Homo sapiens: one gene and its partners. The protein of the gene in region 1 interacts with the protein of each later gene in a pairwise test. Each region holds a gene or a part of one and is shown in the gene's direction. Other genes may lie near its edges.

The links.
Region 2: the proteins of KLHL26 (region 1) and UBQLN4 interact in a two-hybrid assay, tested with the Homo sapiens proteins (one large-scale study listed by BioGRID and IntAct).
Region 3: the proteins of KLHL26 (region 1) and ACIN1 interact in a two-hybrid assay, tested with the Homo sapiens proteins (one large-scale study listed by IntAct).
Region 4: the proteins of KLHL26 (region 1) and KCTD9 interact in binary tests that used the Homo sapiens proteins (3 or more experiments, as listed by UniProt).

What each region holds. Positions count from the first base shown.
Region 1 is NC_000019.10:18,660,281-18,665,486, forward strand, and holds part of KLHL26 (kelch-like protein 26), read left to right. Parts: intron 1-3,980; coding exon 3,981-4,163; intron 4,164-5,206. UniProt on the Homo sapiens protein: May play a role in endo(sarco)plasmic reticulum (ER/SR) mitochondrial signaling. May be part of the ubiquitin-proteasome system (UPS) and affect ubiquitination and degradation of target substrates in cardiomyocytes.
Region 2 is NC_000001.11:156,047,299-156,050,798, reverse strand, and holds part of UBQLN4 (ubiquilin-4), read left to right. Parts: intron 1-245; coding exon 246-508; intron 509-2,139; coding exon 2,140-2,298; intron 2,299-3,500. UniProt on the Homo sapiens protein: Regulator of protein degradation that mediates the proteasomal targeting of misfolded, mislocalized or accumulated proteins.
Region 3 is NC_000014.9:23,085,137-23,088,636, reverse strand, and holds part of ACIN1 (apoptotic chromatin condensation inducer in the nucleus), read left to right. Parts: intron 1-3,500.
Region 4 is NC_000008.11:25,434,434-25,437,933, reverse strand, and holds part of KCTD9 (BTB/POZ domain-containing protein KCTD9), read left to right. Parts: intron 1-1,448; coding exon 1,449-1,516; intron 1,517-1,603; coding exon 1,604-1,699; intron 1,700-2,421; coding exon 2,422-2,571; intron 2,572-3,500. UniProt on the Homo sapiens protein: Substrate-specific adapter of a BCR (BTB-CUL3-RBX1) E3 ubiquitin-protein ligase complex, which mediates the ubiquitination of target proteins, leading to their degradation by the proteasome.

The sequences.
Region 1 (5,206 bases):
GTCAGAATGGCCCCTAGCCCGGGCCAGGCCTGTAGCGGGGGCGTGTGGCCACTCAGAGGCCAGATTCGGGCAGAGGGTGCAGCCAGGGCGGGCAGCAATGGCCTCTTGAGACGGCCCTGGCCGGGGCTGCTGACGCATTGGCTCCGATGACTCACGTGCGGGTGACCGTCACTCGAGTGGCCGTCTGGAGACTCGGACCGGCTCAGGGCCACCGCCTTCCTGGGGGCCTGTGGCCCCGCCGTGCCGGCCGCCCCCTGTCTGGACCAGCCTGAGTAATGGGTCCTTCCCCTCCTCCCAGTGGCCGGCTGGAGAGGACCTTAGTCATCAGCCCTGGCCCCGGCCCTCCCTCCTCCGCCTGCCCACCTCCGCCCAGGCTGCGTCTCGCTTCTCCGTCCAGGCTGGGGGACTCCTGCCCCTCCTGGCCTCCTCCCTCCTTGAGTTCCCCAGGAGGGGCTGCAGTGGGGTGGGTTTGGCTTCACAGGGGCGGCAGTGAGGGTGACGTCAGGGGCCTCAGGGACAGTTGTCCCATCCCTAAGATGAGAGGAAGGAAACAGCCATGTGGAACGCGTCAGGCATCACCAGGGCATGAGGAGGAGGCCTGGGGAGGACAAGCTGCTTCCTCCCCTCTTTGGTCCAGCGTGGGCCCTGTGCCCTGTAACCAGCAGTGGATGGGCCTCACCCTGCTTTCTGGGCCTGGGGTGTCCTAAATTCCAGATGGGAGCATCCAGATTCTCCGAGTGTGTAGTCGTCACGTGCTAGTGGCAGCCTGGGTCCCAGGGCTCTGCGTTTGCTCATCTCATCCTCCAGCGGCCCTGGGGCTGGGGAGCTGGATGGTCATTTGCCCCTGCTTTGTAGCTGAGGCCTGGGTGGTTGAGTGACTGCTGAGTTCCCAGCTAACCAGAGCTGGCTTGGCCCAGGCTGCTGGCCCCTGATGTCTCCTCTGAGATGCCCTGCCAGTCAGCTGAACTGATCCTGCCTTCTGGGTTCCGGGCACCCTCTCTGCTTGCTGGGGAACCCACAGATCCCATGTTTGGAACACTGGCCCACCTCCCTGGTTTCCTGTTCCTCAGTCATCAGAGTAGCAGGGTGCAGGGCAGTAGCTCCTCTCCTCCCCAGAGGGAGGTCCTCTCTGTCCAACTTCTCAGTTCTCCAGATATGTTCTGTGCACTCATGGGCAGATGCATATGTGTGGCACTTTGAGCCCAAATAGCATCCCACTGTGTGCACTCTGCCTCTTCCTTCCTCCTGCAGCCTTGACGTCATCCCCTGCATGCAACATCTTCCCCAGGATGCGTCAGCCTCCTCACCCATCTATAGGGCAGCCCTCACTCAGAAGGTGCTGTGATTCCACGAATCTCCTTTAAGGGTGGTTAGCTTATTTCTCGTCTGTGGCCCCTAGAGATTGTATTTGGGTAAGTTTCAGAAATAGAGTTCTTGGGTAAAGGACATGAGCCTTTAGAGTGTTGCTGAGTCTACGCAGCTGCCTTCCTGGGGGTCACCTTGCTTCATAAGCCCCCCGAGAGTGTGCTTCCCTGACTGCAAGCGAGGCTGACTCTTACGTCCTTCTAGCCAGCTCTGCTTGCTTTCCTGGGAACCATTAGCCCACATTCTTTGTGCATCTTTCGATCTCACTCTGTCACCCAGGCTGGAGTGCAGTGGCACAAATATGGCTCACTGCAGCCTCCACCTCCCGAACTCAAGTGATCCTCTCACCTCAGCCTCCCAAGTAGCTGGGAACACAGGCTCATGCCAGCATGCCTGGCTAATTTGTATTGATTTCTTGATGCTCTTTATATATGGAAGAGCATGGTAAATATGCTCCTAAGGACTGAGTGGCCCCGTGGTGAACTTGTCCCAGTGCAACGTGTTTCTTCTGATGAAAATGTACACATGCACACCTGCCTCCAAGGGCTTTACAGGAGGCACGAGAAGTCCTCCCATCCCTCCCCGCAAATCTCCTTGAACTTCTAAGGAAAAACCAGACCAAAATCAAAATGGCAAAGGCTGGCAAGGCCCATGCATACTTCTGGGAGACAAAGTGTCCACAGAAAGGCCGGCAGGGGTCACCCAGAGCCCGAATGCACAACCCTTGCCACAGCTGCAACACAAAGCTGATTCTGGGTGATCTGACCCCTTTTGGTCCCCATTGCCTGGACCGCGTGCCCATGAGGACGGGGCCTACTTCGTCTCATTTACGCAGCATCCCTGCATGCACGGGCAGGGAAGAGGAGTTTGCAAAGCCAGTGAGGCAAACTGGGGACAAGGAGAGACCTTGAGGGTCCTCAGAGGCACATGCAGGATGCGGCTTTGGCCCCAGGCAGCCTGGACACCCGTCGCAGGGTGTCGGTGAGAGGGCATGCCATTCGTGGGAAGCAATGAGACCCTGCCCTGGAGATGTCCAGGCAGGTGCTGGACCCCTGTGGGGGGCTGGATAGGGGAGAGCGGCCCATGAGCCTGCGACATGCTCCTCACAAGCCTCGGATCTGGATCTGTCATGGGTCTAGGGAAAAAAGAGCCAAGGCTTGGCTCAGGGCAGCAGCCTGGTCAAGTGGGATCGGGGCCGATGTGTGGGGAGGGGAGGAAGGGAGGAGGGGAGGTAAGCGTCCCTTCCACTTGGCAGGGGAAAGGCCACGGGGACAAGCCAGAGTCTCAGGGTGCACCTGGACCCCTTTCCTTCCCTGCCCTCCTCAGCTTTCAAAAGGCTGCACCCCCACCCTCCCAGGCAAACACCAGGTCTGGGCTCCAGCACCCCCAGCACCGCAGCATTGCTGGCCAGCCCAGATGACCGTGGCATTGGGCTCTGAGTAGCATATGTCCTGCTTCCCCAGGGACTCAAAGGCTTTCCACTGAGCACAGGCCCCACACTGGGTCCTTCGTGCTATGTCCCCACCCTCTAGGACATGCAGTGCCTCGCAGGCAGGGCTGGGGCTTGGGCAACTTCTCTGCCTGTGGTGCCTTGCAGGGCTGTGGTCAGCGCCTGGCCCTGAAGCCCCTCTCCCCGGCAGTTTGTCTTGATCACTCACCCTTTCCCAAGGGTCTCTGGAAGGGTGGTCTGAAGGGGAGGTCAGGGACCTCCGGTGGCAGCTGCTATGTTGACTGAGTGCCCACTGTGTGCCCTGTGTTTGACGTTGGCTCTTTAATGCCCACTGTGGTTTTGGGGCTGGCTGGCAGTGGGGCCAAGGAGCCTTCCGTCTCCTCCCGCTTTCTTGGAAAGATCAGTGCCCGCATTCCTGGCCTTTGCTTACAGGCAGGCGTGGGTCCCAGGAATGGGAGAGCAAATTCCAGAGGGCAGAGGCCACCAGGACAGAGCAGGGTGCCTCAGCCCGGTGGGGGTGGGGGTCTTAGAGGGGACTGATCCTGGAGGTGGCACCAGGGTCCACCCCCTGTTGTGTTCTGAGGAAGAAGTGGTGTGTTAACGGCTCCTAAGCTATTAATTCATTGATCCGTTCAACAGTTTCCCCAAATGAAATAGCAAAGGGGTGGTGGGGCTGGAGAAGAGGGGATGAGGGGGCAGTAGGGGCAGTGGGGGCTGGACCACAGAGGGCTCGTATACTCTGGGGTGCAGGGGGCTGTGGCGGGGCTTGCAGGGGACTTGAGAAGGCTCCCGTGTGTCCTTTGGTTTTTTTATTGAAGTGAAATTCACGTGACATAAAACTGTCTGAAAGTGGACAATTCAGTGGCATTTAGTAGATTCACAGTGGTATGCAAACACCACCTCTGTCTAGTTCCAGAACATTCTCATCCCTCCAAAAGGAGACCCCACCCCATCAGCAGTCACTCCCCCCTCCCCTCCCCCAGCCCTTGGTGGCACCCATCTGCTTCCTGTCTCTGCGGATTTGCCTGTTCTGGGCATTTCACGTCAGTGGAGTCATACACAGTGCGGCCTTTTGTGTCTGGCTTCTTGCACTGAGTGTTGTGTTCAAGGTAATAGTGTGTGTGTGAACCTCTGGGCCATGTCCCCACCTCTGCTTTCCCCGCAGCACGGCCGACAAGAACGGGGCCCTCAAGTGCACCTTCTCGGCACCCAGCCACAGCACCAGCCTCCTGCAGGGCCTGGCCACCCTCCGCGCTCAGGGCCAGCTCCTCGATGTTGTGCTGACTATTAACAGAGAGGCCTTTCCTGCACACAAGGTCGTCCTGGCTGCCTGCAGCGACTACTTCAGGTAAGTGCTGGCCCCAGGCAGCTGGAAGGGGCGGCTGCCTGTTGGGACAGGGACAGGGCAGATGGCACCCACTTTCTAAAGGGGGCCTGTCTCAGCGCTACCCAGGGACAGCTTCGAGGGAGAACGGCTGGTACCGGCTGCTCTTTTTTTTTTTTTGAGATGGAGTCTCGCGCTGTTGCCCAGGCTGGAGTGCAGTGGCACAATCTCGGCTCACTGCAACCTCCGCCTCCTGGGTTCAAGCAGTTCTCCTGCCTCAGCCTCCCGAGTAGCTGGGAGTACAGGCACCCGCCACCATGCCCAGCTAATTTTTTTTGTATTTTTTAGTAGAGACGGGGTTTCACCATGTTGGCCAGGCTGGTATTGAACTCCTGACTTCGTGATCTGCCTGCCTTGGCCTCCCAAAGTGCTGAGATTATAGGCGTGAGCCACCGCTCCGGGCCCCTTCTGATTTTAGAGAGAGGTTTAATGTCCAGTAAACCTGCAGGTTTCCCGGAGTTTGCATCTTACTCTCTTTGGGCAGAACATGCCTGGAGGGACAGAGATGGCCTGTGGGCACCCACTCACTTCTACCCTGCATGCAGGGTGGCAGGGCTTGGCCAGGTTTTTGATCTGTTTTGTTTTTTTTTTTTTTGAGACAAAGTCTCGCTGTGTCGCCCAGGCTGGAGTGCAGTAGCACAATCTTGGCTCATTGCAACCTCCGCCTCCCGGGTTCAAGCGATTCTCCTGCCTCAGCCTCCCGAGTAGCTGGGACTACAGGCGCATGCCACCACACCTGGCTAATTTTTTGTATTTTTAGTAGAGACGGGGTTTCACCATGTTAGCCAGGATGGTCTTGATTTCCTGACCTCATGAGCCACCTGCCTCAGCCTCCCAAAGTGCTGGGATTACAGGCGTGAGCCACTGCGCCCAGCCCAATCTGTCTTTACTTGACGCCTGCTGTATGCCAGGCACTATTCTAGTCCTTGGGATGCAGCAGGGATGACAGTGAAATGGGCACAAGCCCCTGCCCTCAGGGCATCCCCTCAGGACACCTGGAGCAGGAC
Region 2 (3,500 bases), on another chromosome or scaffold:
GCCACTCATTCAACAGACCATTGCTGGTTGCCTTCTCTCTGCTCAGTTCTATGTTTGGCACAGCCTCAGTCTAGTAGGCTCACATTTTTTTGCCAGCAGTGGATCAGGGCCGGGCTGTGGGAATGACAGGAAGAGGGACATGTGAGAAGCATTTGGGGCGTGTCCTGGAGATCTGAATTCAGTGGCTCTGGCTAAGTGAGGACACTGTTCTTGTGGCAGACTGTGACCCTGCCCCCTTCCCACAGCTGGCTTTGGGGGCATCCTGGGGCTGGGCAGCCTAGGCCTGGGCTCTGCCAACTTCATGGAGCTGCAGCAGCAGATGCAGCGGCAGCTGATGTCCAATCCTGAGATGCTGTCACAGATCATGGAGAACCCCCTGGTCCAGGATATGATGTCTAACCCTGATCTGATGCGTCACATGATTATGGCCAACCCCCAGATGCAGCAGTTGATGGAGCGGAACCCTGAGATCAGCCACATGCTCAATAACCCTGAACTCATGAGGCAGGTGAGTATGAGAGGGCTGGAGAGCTGGAGGACACTGGTGCCCAGCCGTGCCCTGCCCAGCCTTTCCTACTTTGTCCTACATTGATTTGTTCATTCGTGTATTCAGCAGTTTTGAACACTGGAGGTACAGGGATGAAAAGACAGGCCTAGCTTTTCAGGAATTCCAGGTGTCAAAGGGAAGTAGGACAAGTAAACCGGCAATTAGAATACAATGTGGCCATTGCTATCAGAAGGATAATCATGGGATCCTCTAGGAGCATAGAGAAGAGCTCCTGACCCTACCCTAAGGCTTAGAGGAGGCCTTAAGAAATGTCACCGAGCTGAGACCCAAAGGAGGAAGACGAACCAGGGGGAAAGAAAGAAGAACATTCAGGGCTGAGGGACAGCAAATATAAAGGCCTGGGAGTGAAAGATAGTAGGTTGTTTGGGGAGCACTGTGGCTGGGCAGGGCCCAGTTGGGAATGGAGAACCAGGGGAGACTGTTGTGATGTTGCTCTTTGGGAGTTCCAGCTCATGGTCCGCTCCACCAGAGGACCAAGGTAGATGATCTTCCCAGCAGGGCTGTGGACACCAGTGCTGGACTCACCAGAAGATAATTTATGTAAGGTCAAGGACTTGTGAGTGTTTTGTTCACTGTCTAGAACAGTGCCTGGTGCGTGGTAGTCATGCAGTAAATATTTATTGAATGAATGAATTACGGAACAAGAGATCAGAGTTCTGGGAAGCTGGGCATATCAGTTATAAAGGAGTCTTAGAAAAGGCAAGTGTGGAGCACATTTGGGAAGGAGAGGGAAGGTATTCCAAGTTGAATGGGAACAAGTAGTTATACTTATTTTTCTGTGATGAACTCCCCCGGGGTTGACATAGCCACCCCTTATTGAGATTGTGCCATTGGCTCCATAGAAGAAAGCCCCCATCTTCAGTGTTTCTCAAGGTTCAGGCAGAGCAAAGACTTGGGGGTGGGAATTACAGGGTGTCAGTAGCTTTATTCCAGCTTGAACGCTTTCCTTCCCCAACTTGCAGTCATTTACCAGGAATCACAGTATGGTCTTGGACAGACCAACCAACCTGGCTTTGAACACTGTCTTCACCACTCAGTGACTGTGTGTCCCAGGGCAGCAAGTCAATTAACATCTCTGAGCCTATTTGCTCATCTGCAAAATAGGGACAGAAATAAACACCTGAGATGGTTATTGTGGAGATTACATGACTTGAATTCCGTAAGCTACTTGGCCCTGTGCCCATATACAGTAGGTTCTCAGTAGATGTTAATTTTCTCTTCTGCCTCCTCCCCTTTCTTTCTGTGTCTCTTCTGACTCAGTTTCCTTGTGCACCCTGACACTTCTTTGGACACTCTGAGCCTAAGGGAGGGAAGCTGCTGCCCTCACTTCAGCTGGGATCATTGTCCTCCACTAGAAAAAGCCAACCAAAATACCCACAGGGAGGCGGGCTTGGAGCCAAGATTACAGTAGAGGAAGGAAGTCCAGTTTACTCTACTCCCTGTCACTGTGGGGCAGTTCCTGGGCCCTGGTCCTGATCCTGATACAGACCCCCCTTCCTCAAGGCCCACCCTTTTCCTAGGTTGGTGCTCCCCTGGTTCCGGGGCCCATTTTGTCTCTCTCCCTTGATCAGACAATGGAGCTTGCTCGGAATCCAGCCATGATGCAAGAGATGATGCGGAACCAGGACCGGGCCCTGAGCAACCTTGAGAGCATCCCTGGAGGGTATAATGCCCTCCGCCGCATGTACACGGACATCCAGGAGCCCATGTTCAGTGCTGCCCGGGAACAGGTGGGATCAAGGGCCAGGGTAGTGGGTTGGGCTGTCTGGGCTCGAGATTCCCTACCCCCACCCCAGGCAAACCTGGGCCTGCTCTTCTTTCTTTCCCCAGTCCCCTGAGGGGTGGGCCTTGGCTTGAAGGCAGTTCTCAACAGTACATATCCGGGGATGGTCCATTTTGGCATGGACAAATATAAGCAGAGGTCCTTGTGGAAGTGGTTGAGGCATAGCATCCAAGGAACTTGACATCCTGACAAACTTCTTGTACCAGGGGCTCAAAGGTCACGTGGCAGGCCTGAGGTCAGACGCCAGCCCTGATACAGCATGTCTCAAGTATGGTCCATGGATCACCTGCATCAGAATCACCTGGGGACCTTGTTGATAATGAGAATCCTGGTCCCCACCTTTGAGCTACTTATTGAATCCATTTCTGGGGTTGGGCCCCAGGATTATACACTTTTAAAAATGCTTTATGAATCCTATTCAAGTACACACAAAAAAATAGATAAAAATGTAACATTCTTTTTTTTTGTTTTTAATCAATGTTGCCCTAACATGTTGCCATATATAATTTCAGTGCCCTTTTGGTTCTTTCTTTCTTTCTTTTTTTTTTTTTTTTTTGAGATGGAGTCTCGCTCTATCGCCCAGGCTGGAATGCAGTGGCGCAATCTCGGCTCACTGTAACCTCCGCCTCCCGGGTTCAAGCAATTCTCCTGCCTTCTCCCTGGTGGCTAAGACTACAGGTACATGCCACCACGCCCGGCTAACTTTTTATATTTTTAGTAGAGATGGGGTTTCACCATGTTAGCCAGGATGATCTTGATCTCCTGACCTCATGATCCGCCCACCTTGGCCTCCAAAAGTGCTGAGATTACAGGAGTGAGCCACCGCGCCTGGCCATGGTTCTTTTTAAAAATTTAATTTTACATTAAACACATTCTATGTTTGTATGTTTGAAAATGCAAAAGTTGGCCAGGCGCAGTGGCTGACACCTGTAATCCCAGCACTTTGGGAGGCTGAGGTGGGCGGATCACGAGGTCAGGAGATCGAGACCATCCTGGCTAAAATGGTGAAACCCCATCTCTACTAAAAATACAAAAAATTAGCCGGGCATGATGGCACATGCCTGTAGTCCCAGCTATTTGGGAGGCTGAGGCAGGAGAATCGCTTGAACCCGGGAGGCAGAGGTTGCAGTGAGCCAAGATCGTGCCACT
Region 3 (3,500 bases), on another chromosome or scaffold:
CACCATAATCAGTGTTTTTAGGATGTATGGAGGTTTCCAGCTCTTCTGATTAATACAGAATTCCTTCATGGACTACACTTGATTTTAGTTAAAAGGCTGAGCAGCGATAGACTCTTCATGGAAATAGATTTTTTAGGAGACATTTAATGGTGGGAAAGAAATTTTCCAAAAGGCTAGAGAAAATAGAGAGCCTTTGAGTCTAGTTTTAAGGTCCTGTTTTACTCAGTCCCTGTTTTTCTTGATCCTAGTCTTAGACCCAGAAAGACATTTCTAGAAATCTTTTAGTAAGAAAATACTGGCCAATACTTTGGAATTATTAAGTTCCTTAGGGACCTCTTTTCTCCTGAAATACGAGAGTAGTAGACCCTCAGCTGATCCACTTTGCTCCCTGCGCCCTTTCCCCCTTGATTTTAAAGCCGAGAGGAAAGAGAAAGCTCTTCTAAAATTGTCGGTATTTCTTCTCACATAAAACAAAAAAAAATTTATTGAATTCCTACTGCATACATATCTCTGTGAGAGTATATTGGGAGTTAGCACAGCATAAAGTCTGTTAGGAAGAGAGAACAATTACACATAAATCGAACAACAGAAGATAGTATGTGACAATGATACAGACATAGGGAACCAAAAGAGTGGAAGAGCTCTGAGGACTACAGTGATTAGAGAAAGCCTCATAAGGAGATACAGGATTTGAGCTGAGCCTTAGAAATGGTTTGGCAGAGAGGATACAAGAAGATATTTTTAGGAAGGAACAAAGTCAGAGAGATAGGAATGAAAATGGTATTTTTAAAGGAGAGGTAGTAGACTAATCTAGCCAGAGTAGAGTATTTCACATTCAAGAATAGTCAGCAAAACAATTTAAAAGGTAGATGAGGGTGATACACAGAGGGCTTTAAATGCCAGGCCAGTAAGTATGAGGGTTTTTTTTTTAGTTCTATAGGTAATGGGGGAACCATTGAAAATTCTTAATAGGACCATGATTTGATAAGGACCTCTCTTTAAAAAGAGAGGCTGTCAGTTCTTAATATAATTCGAAATGAAAATGAGAAATGATTTCTGAAATAGATTTCAAAAGCAAAGATTTAGAGTAAGGGTAGCCAATCTTTTCAGTGCTTTATGTCATCAGTAAGACCCTGCCCATGGCTAATGATTGATGGAGGAAAAAAAAAACCCCAGACGTTAAAAAAAAAAAAAGGTGAAAAATAAATTGGAAAATATGAATGTGGTAAATTGTAGAGTACTGCTCATAATTGCCGTAAATGCTCTTCAGTGTCCTTTATGCCATAAACTTTTCTACCTCTGATCTTGGCTTAGATAAGAATCCCATTATAGATGTTGTACAAAATTTAGTTAAGGTCCTGAATGGAGTGGCCATTTGGAATTCTATCAGTGCTTAGTTGAATCAGCATTAACCCTAGTGTTTGTCCAGAAATCAGATTCTTCCAGGTATAGAATCTCAGTCTGCCATATGCCAGTATGCCATTGCAATGGCAGCTTATTTGTTGGCTTTGAATGTTTTGGGGTTCTCTCTTGAATAACAATTTTTGATTAAGTTTCCTACTAACATTTTTCTAAACGCTACTGGCACCTGAGGGAGATTTTTTATTTGTTTTAATATTACTATGTTTAAGAATATGGATTCCTGGCCCCTACCCAAAGAATCTCAAGGAATGGGAGTCCTGGGGCTCTACATTTTTTAAAAAGTCCCTGAGTGGTTCTGTTGACCAATTCATTTTATGAATGACTAACTGAAGGAAGAGTTTTTCAGTGTTATAATTTATCAAGATCTTTGGTTTATATTCCAGCATCCTCCTGTTTATATGCTATTGGCAAAATTCCAAATAGGAAGGAAGAATTGGTTTGTCCAGGTGTGGTGTCTCACACCTGTAATCCTAGCACTATGGGAGGCTGAGGTGGGAGGATCTCCCAGGAGATTGGCCTGAGCAACATAGTGAGTCCTATCTGTACAAAAAAATAGAAAACATTAGCTGACTGTGATGGCACATGCCTGTAGTCCCAGCTACTCGGGAGGCTGAGGTGGGAAGATTGCTTGGGCCCTAGCAGTCAAGGTGGCAGACAACAGAGTGAAACCATGTCTCAAAGAAATAATTGGTTTATAAAATCCTGTCTGACTTTCCCTCTTATGTCTCCATCACTTTCTTCAGATATTTCTAAGGTGTTAGGACTCATTATCCACCTACCATAGTCATAAATTGTCTGAATTTCCTTCTATATCATGACTGTGTGTACAGAAATTCTTACCGTCCTTAATTTTTTCAAAAAGAGCTCAAACTAAGAAAATACATTTTTAAATGCATATTCAGAATATTGATTCTTTAACAAAGGTGATTTTAGCCAGCCTTTGGCTTATAGAGTATGCCCCTCATTCCGTTTTCTCCATATTAAAACCTGGATGCGGAAATTCTAGAGAAATGCTAGGTAACTTACTTACAGGTCTAACATGAGTCAGATTTAGGTTTGGCATTGTTTCCAGGTCTGTATTCTCTTCATTCCTGCTTCTTATTCACACCTAAGGTTACCTTTTAGCCACAGGCTTTTCTTCGATCTCTGGCTTCCTTACTTTGGTCCCACAAATCCTACCCAGGAATTTGTTTTCTAGGATGAAGAACTATTTCCTCTATAACCCTTAAACATTCTGCACTTTAATATATCCTGCATTGTCTAGCAACTGCCTTTTCCTTTCTGTGAAGCCTTCTGGCTTTGGACTCTTGGAAATCTAATATTTACCCTGACTTGTTTTTCGAATCCTGAAATGTATTTATTAGCCTGTTATCAGTATCAGCTCCACCCTTAGCTAAAGCGCTCACTGTCTACACGTGTTACTAACATCTGGCCTAAGACATTCATTGTGGCCATGTTCTTATAATAGAAGATATCACCTTTTTCAGAAGTTTGTCTGCATCACATCAGCTCTTTCCAAGGAACTAGAGATTCCTCATCTCTTTATATTTTGCATTGCTGACTAATTTCTTGTTTCATGTCTGAGGCGCCTCCAGTTTCTGCTTTTATTGCAAAACAGTGATGACCAGAACTTTCTGAACAGCCCTGTTCATTTCTCCAGATCTCTTTGATGACTTACTACAAGTTCTTCCAGAGGAGTAATCATCCAGAAATCCTATCACTGCAGTTTTACAGTATCAAAAATAACATTATAATTCAATAAATAGCATATAATTCACAGTAGGTAGATAAAGAGGCTGTTTTGCTTGTACATACTAATTTTAAAATTGCAACTCAGTTATTTGACTTTGTTGTTGTTGTTCTTGTTGTTGTTGTTTTTTGAGATGGAGTCTCGCTCTGTCGCCCAGGCTGGAGTGCAGTGGCGCGATCTCTGCTCACTGCAAGCTCTGCCTTCCAGGTTCACGCCGTTCTCCTGCCTCAGCATCCCAAGTAGCTGGGACTGCAGGCACCCGCCCCCACACCCGACTAATTTTTTTTTTTGTATTTTTAGTAGAGACGGGGTTTCACCATGGTCTTAA
Region 4 (3,500 bases), on another chromosome or scaffold:
TTTCACTAACACCAAAAAGTAGTGAGTGGCAGAGCTGGGATTCAAATCCAGATTTTTTTTTTTTTTTTTTTTTTTTTTTTTTTTTTGAGACAGGGTCTCGCTCTGTCACCCAGGCTGGAGTGCAATGGTGTGATCTCTGCTCACTGCAACCTATGCCTCCTGGGTTCAAGTGATTCTCCTGCCTCAACTTCCCAAGTAGATGGGATTACAGGCACACACCATGATGCCCAGCTAATATTTGTATTTTTTTTGTTTTGAGATGGAGTCTTGCTGTGTCACCCAGGCTGGAGTGCAGTGGCGCGATCTCGGCTCACTGTAAGGTCCGCCTCCTGGATTCACGCCATTCTCCTGCCTCAGCTTCCCGAGTAGCTGGGACTACAGGCACCTGCCACCACGCCTGGCTAATTTTTTGTATTTTTAGTAGAGACAGGGTTTCACCATGTGTTGGCCAGGCTGGTCTCGAACTCCTGACCTCAAGTGATCTACCCACCTCAGCCTCCCAAAGTGCTGGGATTACAGGTGTGAGCCCGGCCTGTCTTTTGTATTTCTATGGCTTCTCTGGATGTTTTAAAGGTTTAATTCTAAACCTAGAATTGGAAACGTATCCTGGCTGCATTCCCTAAGAGTTCTGCTTTACTTAGACCTTGGCAAATTGAGAGCGTGGCCCACAAGAACCTCTTTTATAATATGTTGAGTTTCCACCAGGGATATATATCCGAACGGAATGGCATAATCTTTGGATGCCTCTTGAAGGGGAAATGTGGACCCTGTATGCCAGAGTGGTAGCCCGATGCTGTACCTTGGATGACGTTTGTTTTACAATTGGATTGTTGACCATAGAGTTTGGTCTTCACAGAAAAGATTGTATTATTCTTCCCAAATAACTGCTTCTGGTTTTCTGTATCTACTTACCCTTATTAGCTTGTAAGTGTTTGAAGGGAGGGATTATGTCTGATACTTTCTTTGTAATTCCAGAGTTCTAAGTAGTTTTTTACTGAGTCAACAGCCAACTGATTGAGGTCTTCTCATTTGAAAGATAATGGAACCCAAATGTATTCCCACACATTCTGATGATGTTTATTAACAGATTAGAATAAGTAAATATACCAAGTCATGTAAAGGATGTACATTTTTTTTTACCAAGTTAAAGTAAATGATAAATGAAAGCTCTTTTAGTATTTACAAATATTTTAAAATTTATTCTCCTATAAGACAGATTTCTGAATTATACTTTTGACTTTTTTGTACTTTTTAAACTTTTATTCATTTCTATCATTTTCTGATTCAGTATGTAAAAGATACTTGTGGCAAACCTGTTCAGATCTGCTCCATTTAAAAAGGCAATTAAATGTTAAGATTATGTGAACTAATCGTATTTTAGTAAATTCAAAATGAATGTAATACATTCACTAAATTAGGTTGTTTCAGAATTATTTTTGTTCTGATAGGTGTGTTAGAAGAAGCAAGATTTTTTGGTATTGACTCATTGATTGAACACCTAGAAGTGGCAATAAAGGTAAGCCTGTTTTTACATTAGCCAGTGTTACATTCATTGTAGCTATCTCCCAAAAGACTCCACTAATTTCTTAATGTCTTTTTTAAGAATTCTCAACCACCGGAGGATCATTCACCAATATCCCGAAAGGAATTTGTCCGATTTTTGCTAGCAACTCCAACCAAGTCAGAACTGCGATGCCAGGTAATTAGCAGGCTTTTACATCAATTATTTCTATCAGCAAATCTATGAATAAAATTTTACATTCTTCTAGTGTTTTGGGATTATCTTGCTTTGTTTTTCTTTTACATGCAAGATCTAATTTAATTATGAGTCATAGCATTGATTTAGTTCTGAAATGGTTAACGAAAAAGAGATGCAATAATAGCCTTTTTAAATTGTCTAATTATACCTCATGCAACAGTTTATGAATAATGCATAGAAATTGCAGCAGTTTTTTAAAAGTCAGTATTTGTACATTTGCAATATATGGGCTGATCAGTGGCAGGTACTTTACTTATGTGTACTATAGCATTTCAAATTGTAAAGACCACAGTACTCATTTTTGCCTAATAAACTGTTTTGAATTACTGAATTAATAAAATAATTTAAATATAATTAGGTTTAAATACTTATTAGCAGGTATAGGACTAACAGGGATCCCTCTTTAGAAGCTTCTACACAGAAATGAATTATAGCCGGGCTATATTCTAATGTATATATTGATAGAGTTTCTTTTATGAGGAACCTATTTAAGGACACTTCTTTTATGTATCTAAGTTCCATTTTATCATGTTCTGTAATAAACTCCAAGTGACTGAACTGCCAATTGCTTCTAAAAAAAACTTGGTGGTTAGCTATAGTAATTAAATTTAATACAAACAGACGATTTAGTTATGGTGACAATTTGTGCTTTTTTATTTCAGGGTTTGAACTTCAGTGGTGCTGATCTTTCTCGTTTGGACCTTCGATACATTAACTTCAAAATGGCCAATTTAAGCCGCTGTAATCTTGCACATGCAAATCTTTGCTGTGCAAATCTTGAACGAGCTGATCTCTCTGGATCAGTGCTTGACGTAAGTATCATTTTAGGCTACAAGAGAAAATTAAATGTTTAGTCTATTGAACAGTCTCAAAGAGCCTTTGAGACAGGAATTATAACTATCTTTTACTGGAGCTTTTACTTGAAAACAGATAATTTATTATGTTGATATAAGACTAAAGGTCTGAAAGTGAAATGAATTTGGTTTTACAGGTTTGATATCCTTTATTAAACATAGACTTGAAAGGTTTAGTAACTAATAAGAAATTAAATCTTGGAATTAGTTCTTGATCTCCTCAATATACTGTACTTTATTTATCAGGACTCATATTTTCAGCTAATTGTAAAGGTAAAGCTGAAAGGAACCTTGAAATCTATTCAGCCTCATTTCTGGAATGGGAAAATGTTACTGCTCAAGAAGTATTTGACAGATATTTTGAAATAAACATGGTATGCATCAGTTTGTGGAAGTTAACATCTCAGTGGCGTTTTCCCTCTCTCTACATATATGTGTATATTTATATATATGTATATGTATGTATTTATAACAGTTATCTGTGTTTATTTGAAGTTAGAGGATATATGCAGACCAACAATGAAATCTATTAATTTTTAACAACTTTAAGTTCCTTACCACCAAGGCCCGTGTCTGTATGTCTTTTGAATTAATACCATCTTGCTTTTGGTAGTCATTTATTGAATTACTCTAATTTGGGTTTTACTCATTAGCTGCAGCTTATTTTTCCATGAAGCTGTGTATCAGGGCGAGTAACAAAATCTACCAAATATGCATTTTAGTTACTTTCACTGTCCTTTATTCTGTCTTATCATGAAGGGTCAGGTTAGTAGCAAAACAGGAAAAAGACTAACATCAAAAAAACGTTTGAAGGACCTAATCTTTAAATAGTGAAATGTCGAGAGGCATCTTTGTTTGTGTTAAGGACAAAAAAAAAAAGATGTTTG